Linked DNA regions of Homo sapiens: region 1 is linked to region 2. A link means that fine-mapping ties the variant in region 2 to the expression of a gene that starts in the linked region. Tissue or cell type: whole blood. Region 2 holds a variant in brackets; the other region holds the start of a gene. All regions are shown on one strand. Distances are between the middles of the regions.

Region 1 (5,441 bases), 190 kb after region 2:
CCGAGGCTCCCCGCACCCTGCACACCCTCAAGATCGCCAAGGCGAGCCCACCGCACCCCACAGCGCGTCCCAAGGGCACCACAGCCGAGGAAGCGACTTTTGCGGTAGCGAAAGGGTGGCAGTACCCAGCTCCACGCGCTGCAAGACTCTAGCAGCCGCGCTTCACCCCAAAACTCTGCCCCTAGCCAGCACAGCTCCCCTAGCGCCCCAAATCCCAGGTGTGCCTGTTTCCCTGGAGTCCCGCCGGCGTGCTTTGCTATTCGCAGCTCGACGCCTAGACCTCCTGACTGCAACCTCCGAGGCCTTTGCGCTCCCAGGCGTCCTTTGCTGCAAGCAAACAGGCCCCCAACCGCCCCCTATGGTTTGTACTCTTCTGGAAGGTGTCTTTGGCGCTGTGAATGCAAACTCAGGCTTTGGATTAAGGGCTTCATTTTCAACTAACTGTGTGATTTGAGGCCAGTTTCTTAACCTCAGTTTCTTTATCTACAAAATGGGAGGGATATTCGTATAAGTGTGGCTACGAGGTTTAAAGAAGATATAGTTATATGTCAAATGCTTAGCACAAAGTCCTGGTGGTTAGCATTATTATTACCATATGGCCAGAACTGTGAGGACATTAAAAGTGAAGTAGGCTTTTTCCCACCAGGGGTAAGCCTCGCGGAGTCCTAGGACACATCCCACAAACCGAGGTGAACCTAAGCCACCGGCTACGTCTGAAGGGAGGACAGACGAGACGAGGGGCAGCCAACTGAGCGAATCACTCTGCCTTCCGCCTTTGCAAATGAATAGGGCTCTGTCTACAGCTTCCGCCATTCCTACGCCAGATCTGCAACGCCTAAGGCTTAAACTTGGCGCGGCGGTAAATTTAGCCCGAAGGCAGCGGCTCCTAAGGGGCGGGGATGTCTCCTTGGAAGAAGGAAAGGGAACAGGGTAAGAAAATGGAGTTGCCTCTAGGAAGAAGAATCAGGCAGAGGAAACATTCAGGGCCGCTGGCGGACCACTGACAAAAAGAAATCGGACGCAAAAGAAACCTCCCCAGAAGAAACTGGGCCACCGTGGGAGCCGTGCGAGACAGACTTCCCATCTGGGAAGGGCTGCCTACGGGTAATTGGGTTTGCTCGAGTTGCCTCTATAATTAATAAGTGATTTGACTTGGAGATTGGAAATAGTCATGAAAGGAAGCCGCGGGCGTAGGGGTGTGAGGCCCAGGAGCCTCCATCCGAAATCCAAAGACCGCGGAGGAGGACGGTTTAAGGAACAGGACGAATGTGATAATATTGGCATCTAACCTTCTAGTGTTTGAGTAATTCGTTGCTTAGCTACTTTGGATAGGCCATTATTTTGCAAACTGGAAACATTTGCAAGTGGTGATATTTTGCTCTTGCCTGACGCAGGGGCTGCAAACCTACGCCGGCTCTGCTGAACTCTTCGAAATATATATGCATAAATTGTTCCTAATGAGACCATCTGTTTTTTATGGCCCCTCTGGAAGCAGGAGGAACCCGAAGCCTGCTCCGTCTTGCAGAAATCTGTGGCCAGGCAGGCCTGGGAAATAAATAGGGGAGATTAGAACGGTGTGCGTGATTTAACAATACGCAGAACGGCAAGTTCGGTGGTCGAGATGTGTGCCTCGATTCCCAGGGGTGCGGGTCATTTAGGGTGACTCCAGACATGGGGGTTCCTCCTAGGAGGCCCAGGGACTTTGCGGAGTTCCACGGCACACACGAACCTCGTTTTTCCATATCTGGAACATCGCCAGAGCCACAACGCGAAACCACGAGCCTGTAGCTGCTCTGGGGACCCAAAACAAGCACCCAGGTTGTAGGTGGTCCCCGACGTCGCCCACTATCTAGGGCCTCCTTCTACGGTGGTGAAGGGAGCTGAACCTGGGCCACAGAGGCAGAGAACGAGCATCACTCCACCCCATACCCGGGTCAGAGCACAGAGCTCATTCCGGGCCTATCCCAAAGACTGAGCTGCTCCGCGAGCGTCTGGCAGGCCCAGCGCCCCGGCCTGAGACCGCACTGAGGGTGGCAGGGCAAACACTTTTCACATTACCGCGTGGCTGTTAATTGGGGCAGTGCAAAAGACGCCGCGACTACCCCTTTGCGGCGGCGGGGGAGGGGGGAGCGGGTCAGGAGTGGGCAGTGGGGGCTGCTTATAATAGAAGGACTGCCCTGGGGAGCCTCAGATATCGGTAACCCCCATGATTAATTCATAACTCTCCACTGCGCCTGGCACCGTCTCGGGTCTTTAATCGGTTCTGAATGTCAGCGAGGCTTCCCCGACAGCCTGAGCACTGCTTTTTCAATGTGTTGAAAGTCGCTGCGCGCACACCAGGAGACAAAGTTGCCATCTGCTCCGGGGACCAAGGCAACTGGGCGCTGGGAGGGGCCTTCCTCCCGCGGCTCCCGCTGCCCCGGGCGGCCTCCTCTTCCCGGCCTGCCCCAAAGCCAACACTGTCACCCGGAACGTCCCCGCCCCCCGCCCCGGGTGCATGCATGGTGGAAACTCCGGCTTGCAGCGAAACAGAGCGCTGCGCGCGGGCGCGCAGGGAGCCTCGCGGTCACCCAGACCGAGACCTATGCTAATGAGATTATAGGCCCGGGTTGTTTGTGTGCGCGGACGTCAAAGGGGGGGCGCAGATAAAGTGTGGAAACCGGGATGACTTGGAGGGGGGAGGGGCAGGAAGCCCCAGGAGAACAAAGCTCCTGGCCGTCGGCCTCCAAAGAGTCGCAGAAGTGACCGCCACTGGCTCGTGCACAGGCGGAAGCGGGGGAGGGCGGGGGACGCCAGGCCTAAAGCGCCTCGTGGGTTTAGAGAACTCAGAGAGGGCACCGGGTGGGGGTGGGAAGAAGACTCAACCCGTAGCTAAATGTTTGGCCTTTGGCTATTTTTTAAGGAAACGAATCTCAGGGAGGTCGGGGCGCGGGGGATGGGGGCATCATCGCGCCTCGGAGATGGGAAGCGAGTTCCCCTCCGCTTTCTGGGAAAAGCCTTGTCTCCCTTCTTTCCCCTCCCCCCATCCTGCTGAGGGTTTGCGTTGACCCATCTCTCCGCTCGGGACCGGCAGGAGGACGGAGCCGCAGGGGCTGACCGCGGCCCAGAGGCTGCCCAGGGGTCGCGCTGCTGCCGGCCTGCGCTTCCGCACTCCCGGGTTCGGTGCGTCGCCTCTCGCGGCAGCGCCTCGCTTCTTCCAGACTGTAATTCCACACTCCCGCAAGCGCTGGGGCTGCGGAATCGTTTGAGGGAGTTGGAACTGCATCAGATGAGCACGCCGGGAGGTGAGATCGGGTAGGAAATAGCCGAAACTTTGAGTTGTGCGCCACCCCACCGCCCCCAACACACACACACAGGCACACACACACACACACACACACACACACACACATTTACCCTCCCCCTTCCCAGCCGCAACCTCCGCCACCCTCTCGATTCTTCAAGGTTTGCAGCCCAGTCCTGTCATATGGTTTTGTTTCTGTGCTGCTGTTTTTTTTCAGACACGAAAATTGGACACGTGGAGAATTAGCCCTGCTGGAGAAGCGCTGGGTGCAGACTCAAACAATGGTTTCCAGCGCCGAAGCTGAGGCATCACCTTCCCCACCTCCACCCTCAAATGGCAGCTGCCTCTATATACAGCGGGCACACCCCTTCACTACCCACCCCCTCCCCCAAAGCCTGGTTAGGGACCTATGTGGGCTGCACGCTCTGGAGCCCCTTGCCCGGACACAAACCCTAGGTGGGCCTGGGCTGCCCGCTGAGTAGCTCATTGCGCCTGGGATCCCCTGGGATTTAGAAGTATAGGGCTCTCTATTTTTCCCTAGGAAGGTCCTGTCTCAAAGATGCCACCCCCAAAAATTAATGTGTAAAAACCCAACCAAGCTCCAGTCTCTGTGTCCTTTGGCAAATCTATCTTTCCTAGGGCATACTTTCCTAAGCTGCTGGGACCTTGCCCCCCATCTGATGAGCCATACGCAGGTGGTCTGGCCTCTTCAGAGCAGCTTCCTTTAGTTATTGTCTTCTCCAGAGGCCCCATCCTCCACGGCAGCCCTAATCTTAGCCCCCCAGCCTCTCTGAGCCCCCATCCCACCCCCACACTGCGCTGAGCTGGCAGCAGCCACAGCTCCCCCAGGCAGTTCCTCTCTCACTGCGCGGCCTGTGCATCTCGCTGGGGCACACACTCCGCACAGAAGCTCCCTCGCCTCCTGGAGCTGGTTTCCTCTTACAGGCTCCCCTTAGAGCTGCTGGTGCTGTGACAACGCCTGCATCTCTGTGTCTCCCTGCAGCGCTGCGAGCTGTGAATCTGCCTTCTCTTCCCTTCCTGCAAAGGTCAAGCTGCCTCCTTCTCTCGCAGGGCCGCAGTTCAGTTCTGGCCTGCAGAGCTTCTACACTGCAACTTGAATATGGGAATGGGGTGGGCATCGTGCAAGGGAGCAGTCACACTCAAGCCAGGAGGCAGGGACAAAAGGGTGTGCGATTCAGGGAGGGAAACACTGAGGACAACCCTCAGAAAGCAGTGCAGGATTTGCAGCTAAAGACTCAAAAGAGGGAGAGAAAACGAGGAAAAGGCTGTTACTAGGTCGTGAGTCCTGAAGTGTAGGCCTTTCTCCTCCCACCCCGTGGGTTGCCCTAGGGGAAGGCCAGAAGAGGCCTCAGGTGTCTGCACTGTGTCCTGTGCAGTTCCTAGGGCCATGCACTTCCGGTGAGGCTGCACTTTACTCCAAGCAGGAGTCAGAAGCATGGAATTCAGTGGCCGCAGGAGCTCAAGTCGGCTGCAGCCCTTTCAAAGAGGGACCCCGAAGAGGCCTTTCTGCCACCCCAGCCCCAGAGAGGCTATGAGGCTCTACAAGCAGCAGAGAGAATGATACGGAGAAAAATGAGAGGAAACGCTATTAAACTTGCTTCCTCTAAAGAGCGCTACCCACCGTTTTCTCTGAACTGTACCTAAAAAGTCAGGAGAGAACTCGTTAACTTTTGTTTGGTTTAACATTGCCAGCTTCAAGTCAACCGTAGGCCCCCCGAAGGTTTTGTAAAATATTTAATCTAGCTCAGACAATTTCCTGCAGTCCCTAACCAGACCACCCCACTTACTGAGCCGCTGCCAAAAAGGATGCTTGACTGCAGACTGGCAACCAGAGGCCTTCCAGTCGCCTGGCTGGCCTTGACCTCCACTCGAGGCGCCAGGAAAGACCCTTCCCGGAATCCCGAGAGACCAAGACCTGGGTAATCCTGGAGGTCTAAACCCGTGAGGAAGCCCAAGAAATGGAGTTAAAGACCCTTTTCGCACAACCGATTGTTGTCTGTGTGACCTTCTGCGGCCCTTGCCCTCTCTGAACCCTCTAAAATGGGCATGAGGATGTCTCACCTTCCTCTGGGTGTTATGCATTTTGAAGCGTGGGCACTATGGGAGAGGCTGACGCTCTGTGTTCCCCAGCGCCCTC
Region 2 (6,003 bases):
TGAGGGGAGGGCAAATAGATCTGCCCGGCCAATATGGTGCTGCCCCTACCAGTCTGCTGGCTTGAAGAGGATGTGCCAGAGACCACTCACCTGCATGGCTGGCCCAGTAGAACAAACCACAGGCTGGCTGTGGGCCTAGAGGCAGGCAGGCCAGCCGGAGCCTGGCAGAGATATACCAGAGTCAAAGGAGGGCCATCCAAGACCGTCCAGTTGACCTAAACGTGATGTGGAGAGGGATGTGTCTTAGCTACACCTATGTCCAGAATTAAGCCTCTGCACAGGTGTGGATTTTACCTCGAGGCTAATAAAGCTTAAAGTTCAGGGCCTTGACTCGCACAGTCCCCTTCCAAGGCCCTGGTAGGGTCCTAGCAGTTATCATTTGTACCTCTGCACTGTTTTTCTTCAAGAAGGCCCCAAAATTCACGTAACTTTTAGGCCCCCAAACTTGGATCTGACCCTGCAGCTGCATTAAGAAGAGATTGGGCTGCTATTCTGGTTTCTCCTTCCAGGGGGTAAGTTTATCCGCAGGGTACAGGAGGGCAGAAGGGACTGTACCTCCCCACAAGAGGGGTTTTGCCTCCGCTCTGCTTCTCTTGGAGGAGCATTTCCCAAGCTCCTCCTCCTCACCTCGTTCTGGGAGAGGGTTAATAGACGTGGGGGTAGGAGGCCTCTTGGGGCCAAATACTTCTGGAAAGATTGGCGGCCTCTCCACTGCCCCCCACCCACCAACCTCCGGAAGATTCACAATGTACATTAGCATAGTAAAGGCTCCAGATAAAGAAAACGTTTGGCTTTGTTTACTGTGGGGGTTGCCCATACTTCCTGGAGCTTAAGCTGAAAGCGAAAGGATGAGTAGGAGTCAGATAGTTGTAGGAGTCAGATAGTTTTAGGAGTCAGAGGGTTTTAGGCTTGAGGGTACAGCCCCAGCAAAAGCCTCGCAAAGCCCGGAGAACTGGAAGAAATTGCTGCTGGAAGGCAGAGTTTGAGGTGGTGGAGCCGGGAGGGATGGACTAGAGGAGCCCCCCAAGCAGGCCTTTCATCCTGAGGACACCGGGCGACAACGCGCTCAGAGCTCTGAATCAGAGCTTCCCTGAATCACAGGCAGAGCTCCCAGCTCTCTGAAGGCTTGGCATGCTGCTGTTTGCATCCTTCCATCTGTTAGCGATGTTTCAGGCTGGGCAGGCATTGTCCTCATAGAGTTTCTCCCCCATTGTCTCTGCCTCTGCTCACCCCAAAGCTGGCAGAACCACAGCGCCCAGTGGCCTCTGGCTGCAGAGGGCATGAGGACTTCAGGCTGGTTTCCCAGAAACAGGAGGGTTTGTAGATAACCCTGATACCCTATGACCAAAGGCACCGTTCCCAAAACCCCTGCCCATGGAGCTATAGCCTAGTGCTGCCAAGTAAAGTTTGGTTCTGGAAAAAACAATTAGCCTACAGGGGTAGCACTAGCTGTTTCTGAAGTTCTACAGCCCAGGCCACCACTGGGTGCTGGCCTCAGTCCCATGAACCTTCAGCCCTGCCAATGAGAAGAATTCACAGATTTATTGTCTTCTAGAAAGGTTGGGGGACACATTCCTCCATGCCACTCTCTGCTAGTTGAGGGCCTGTCCTTTTTCCCCAGGGAATAGTATCTCCCTGGCCAGAGAGCGAGCGGACCAGGCTTTGCTTTCCAGCCTCACATAACCACCCTCCCGATGCCAAATATGACACATTCTTCAAGCTAATGACCTCTGCCCCCACCTTAAAAATAACAGCCCTCCACTTCATCCATCTTTGGGCTGATGACTGCTTTTTCTCGAGCAGGCACGGACTCTAGCAGTTCCTTTGTTTTCCAGTGATGCTTTTTATCCTCCATCTGATTTCATGTCATCTGTGTCTGTGACTGAGCAGGGCTCCCCCGTCTCCTGGCTCGCCCCGCCCATGCACCTTTGGACGTGAGTCTGGAGAGCCTCTGATTCCATGTACAGATTTGCAGGGCTGGCATTTGCCTCTCACATTGGTGCTCAGAGTGGCCGTGTGAAAAGAGGGCGGTCTGGCCGTGGGACTGACTTCCCAGAGCAACAGGGCAAGCTGGTGAGTAAGAACCAGCCTTTTTGCTGGCAAGGGACCTGGGCAGAGATGGGCCCTAATATACCCAGGAGCAACTTGAAGAATAAATACAAGTCATGAGCAGCATTACTGCCAGAGTGTGACAGCTGGCCACCTAGCCCTAGATGGGTACAGGGGAGTGTGTAGAGCCTGGAACCTTCTGGAATGGGGTAAAGGAGTAGCTGAGGGCTCCTAGCTCCACCCTTGGCTCTTTACATGCTCCTGAACACACAAGGGTCCCGCCTAAAATACCGGAGGGCATGGGAGTCTACGTGTTAGTCCCTGTGGCAATTTGAGTCCTCCAGGTAGAGGACACCAAGAGAGAGTAAGTGTGAGAGATGTATTGGGGGAGATTTTTAAGAAGGATAAAGGGGGGGGGGGGACTTCAGACCGGGAGGCAGCTCTGACCCCTGCAGAAGGAGAGGGGAAGGAAGGAGGGGTGGGTAGGGAGAGCCTCAGCCGGCAGCGCAGCTCTGAGAAAGCCTCAGCCAGGCCGATGGGGAGCCCCAGAGCACAGACTGCCCATCAGAAACTTCCTGTGTCAGGCAGTAATGACCCAGCTCTAGTCCCCCTGCTATGCTCTGT[C/T]ATCGGGCGGGAACAGCCTGGGGAGGGTGGCCTCAGCAAGAATGCTGCAGCAGATCCCGAAGGTGCCACAGCCAGAGGCTAGCAAACCATGACACTTCTTCCAGAAACTTTTCCGCTGAAGGGAGGTCTGGGCAGTGCCCTTGCATGGCTGCCACTGTCCTTTTGTGTGGGGGTAAGGGGGTATCAGTGAGGGGAACTCTGAACCCTGGTCTCATGACCTCAGTCAAGCTTTTCTCTGTTGTAGCTTCTTAGTGTGTGGATGAGGGGAATGAACTATACCACATCAGTCCCCATCTCTATGGGGATGCTTGACACCCTGGATTCTGGTTATTTCAGTCTTTGAGCTCCTAGAAGGTAGACATGGAATCAAAAAAGATACCGAAGGGCCTCCACCACCAGAGACAGACACATTGCAGTTGGAAAGGGTCCAGAGTCCTTTTCCACTTGCAAGTACAGAAGGGATGTGGGCCTGGCCCAAGACCACTGAGCTATCCAGTCATTGATTCCATTATTCCACAAAGATGTGGTAGCCACCTACTCCGTGCAGATGGCTACTGTGTGCCCAAGGGGGCCATGGGTCTCCTGAGGACCAGACGGGCTTCAGCAGGAAGACCTTGCTGCCCATCTCTCCCACCCAGCCTTGGTGATTCTCAAAACCGAGGGGCAATATTCCAGATCAACCCCACTTGGTCCTGAGGAAGAGAGAAATGGTCAGGGGCGGAGGGTGGGGGAGGTCTCAGGACAAATAATATAATCCCAGTGACTCCCCCGACACTTCCCCTGCACTATCACCTCACAAATACGTGCATTCACACGTGCACACACGCACAACCACACAGCCATCTTTGGCATCATTAATAATTTATCTTTGAAGAAGCCTGTACAGTTTACAAATATTAAAGCATTATCTCACTATTTTAATCACAACGACTGCTTTGGGGTATTCTCGTTCTTTCTGATAATGAAGCTAGGCTCCGAGATCAAACTTCAACAAGGTCAAAGGGATGGCAGGTGGTTCTTAACCTTTGGGACTGTCTCAGATCCCTTTAAGAACTCTCCCCTCGGAAAAATGCATCTACCCAGAATTTTGCCCACTCTTTCAGGGGTTTGCAGTCCCTACTTCAAGCCCTTGCAGGGCTCCGCCTCCCCACCCCAGTCCCGGTGCGGCTGAGTTGGACCCGGCGGCCGCAGGATAAAATCCAGAGAGGAGTCCGTGTGACGGCGCAGCAGGATTAAGAAATCTCCCAGACCAGGATGGGCACAGAAATGGTTAAGGGGGTGGAGGGTTTTGTTTTTCACCTCTGAGGACTCTGTTATGGGTCATTAAGAACACAAGACCGAACGAGCATTCCATTTGCTGGGCCTGCCTCTAGCGCACAGCTCTGCTTCCCGACAAGATAAGTTCTGTGCAGGAAGGAAATCCTGGGCCCAGGGAGGCAGATGGGAAATCACCCCAGATAAGGCGGCTGCTCCGAGTGCTGGAGTCACACAGGGCCTTTCTGCTGCAAGAATGGCACTGCCGAGAGTCTGCGTTTCTTGCCAGCTGAGGAGGAGGAGGCTCTTCGGAGGCGTCTCCTAACACATTGCTGTTCTAGGCAGCTCTGCAAGGGGAACCCCCCAACGGGGGTGCAGCACCGTGCCTCCAAGTGAAGGAGAGGCCCTCGGGTTCCCGGAGTCTGGAGAGGTGGCCTCCAGCGGTGCCCCGGCCGCCTCCGGCTAGGCCCGCACACAGTTTACCCCCACCCAGGCCTCCTGGCACCCCCGCCCCGCATCCACCACCCAGGTGGTACCTGTGCCCGCGCAGGTGAGGAAAAAGGCCTGTGGAAAACATCATTACTGATAAATAACAGTTCCTTTCAGGTTTAATGACACGTTGCATCCATCCTAAATCTCTCAAAAAAAAAAAAAAAGAAGAAGAAAAGAAAAAAAAGAAAGAAAAAGAAAAAAGCCCTCTCGAGGGACTGCGCCTCGCGCCTGTAAATAGGAACGACAGGCCGGGGCGCGCGCCGAGGCGGGCGCACGGCTTGGAGCGGGCGTATAAATTAACCGGGGGCCGCAGAGTGAATACATTGCACGCGGTATTTATTATGCGGCCGGACCTCCGAGGGGTTCTCCGGCTCCCGGACGTGGCAAATCTTGTCCGGAGCGCCGCTGGCCGCGCTGCCAAGGGCTAGGACGAGAGGACCCGTGGCGGGGGGCGGGGGGCTTCTCCTCCAGTCCTCGGGAGCCCCGGGGCAGCCCGCTTACAGCGGCGGCAGCGGGGAGGGTTTAGGCGAGGAGAGACGCGGCCCCGGGCGCCGCTCGGGCTAGGGGCCGGGCGGGGAGGGCGGGGCGGTGGGAGCGGGCGGCGCGCCCGGCCCCTTAGCATTCCGCCGGCGCGCCCGCCATCGCCGCGTGCGCCCCCGCGCCCCGCTGTAATTACCCCGATTACCAAATGAATCTCGCGCTTTTGTGCTCGCCGGGCGGTGGGTGCGGGGAGGCAGTTCTAATAGTTGTCATTAGGGCCGGGGGAGGCGGGGCGCCGGGGGCTGAGGGTGGGAGCGCGGGGGTGGGGGAGGCCCGCCATTCCCTCGCTGGCTCGCTTGTTCGCTGGCGGTCCCAGGCGGCGCGCAGGCCGCTGCTGGCTGCTGAGTAATGATTTTTTTTCTAATTGGAGGCGAACAGCGGCCCTAATGGATGGAGCCGCTCTCGGCGCGTTCGCTGCGCCCGCCCTTCGATCAATACGGCTCGCTGAGACCGCCGGGCCGCGCTCCCCGGCCCTTTGTGGTCAGAGATGCCTCGGGGGCCCCAATCCCCGCCACCACCACCGGCCCCCCATGCTGCCTCAGCCTCGCCCGGGGAGTTCCCAGCCCCGCCACTCCGAGACACCACCCCTCCTCCGGCCTACCCCCACCCCGGACACTCCAACCCCAGGCTCCTTCCCGCACCCCCGCGCCCGAGTTCCCCTCTCGGAACACTCTTACTCCAGCTCCCCCAACACTGCCCCCGCGTGTCCCCGCCGTCCCGAGCCCTCCATCCCTTCTTGTCCTCACACTATGCCCAGTAGCCTGGTCCCCGTGGCCTCTCAGACAGGGTGGGTTAGCAGGGAGGTGTACGGGAGGGCAGACCCGGGATTGCCACCCTCACCCCTTTTCCGTGACCGCGTTTCTGCCAAGCGCCCCAGGCCGGGAGGAGAGCCGGGCACAGGCGACAGCCTCCGAGAGTTTACGCCGGCTGGTCCGGGAAGGGTTCGCTGAGTCCAATTAAATCCCCACGTTCTTTCCTTCTTGAGCCCACTCCATCTCGGACTGGCTCCAACTGGGACCCTCCGGCTTTCTGAAGGTACAGAAA

The links. PIP is the estimated chance that this variant, and not a neighbour inherited with it, causes the effect.
Region 1: LINC03053 starts here. The variant in region 2 is fine-mapped to the expression of LINC03053 in whole blood (TOPMed, PIP above 0.99).

What each region holds. Positions count from the first base shown.
Region 1 is chrX:40,006,518-40,011,958 of GRCh38, forward strand. LINC03053 (long intergenic non-protein coding RNA 3053) reads left to right here and starts at 2,733. Exons shown (of 2, transcript XR_007068218.1): 1 at 2,733-3,284; 2 at 3,501-5,441. RefSeq lists enhancers at 1-653, 1,873-2,500.
Region 2 is chrX:39,816,260-39,822,262 of GRCh38, forward strand. No RefSeq gene overlaps it. Among named protein-coding and RNA genes, the nearest start is that of MIR1587, 18 kb to the right of the region's middle. RefSeq lists enhancers at 422-1,337, 1,338-2,255. The variant C/T (reference allele first, on the strand shown) is at 2,674.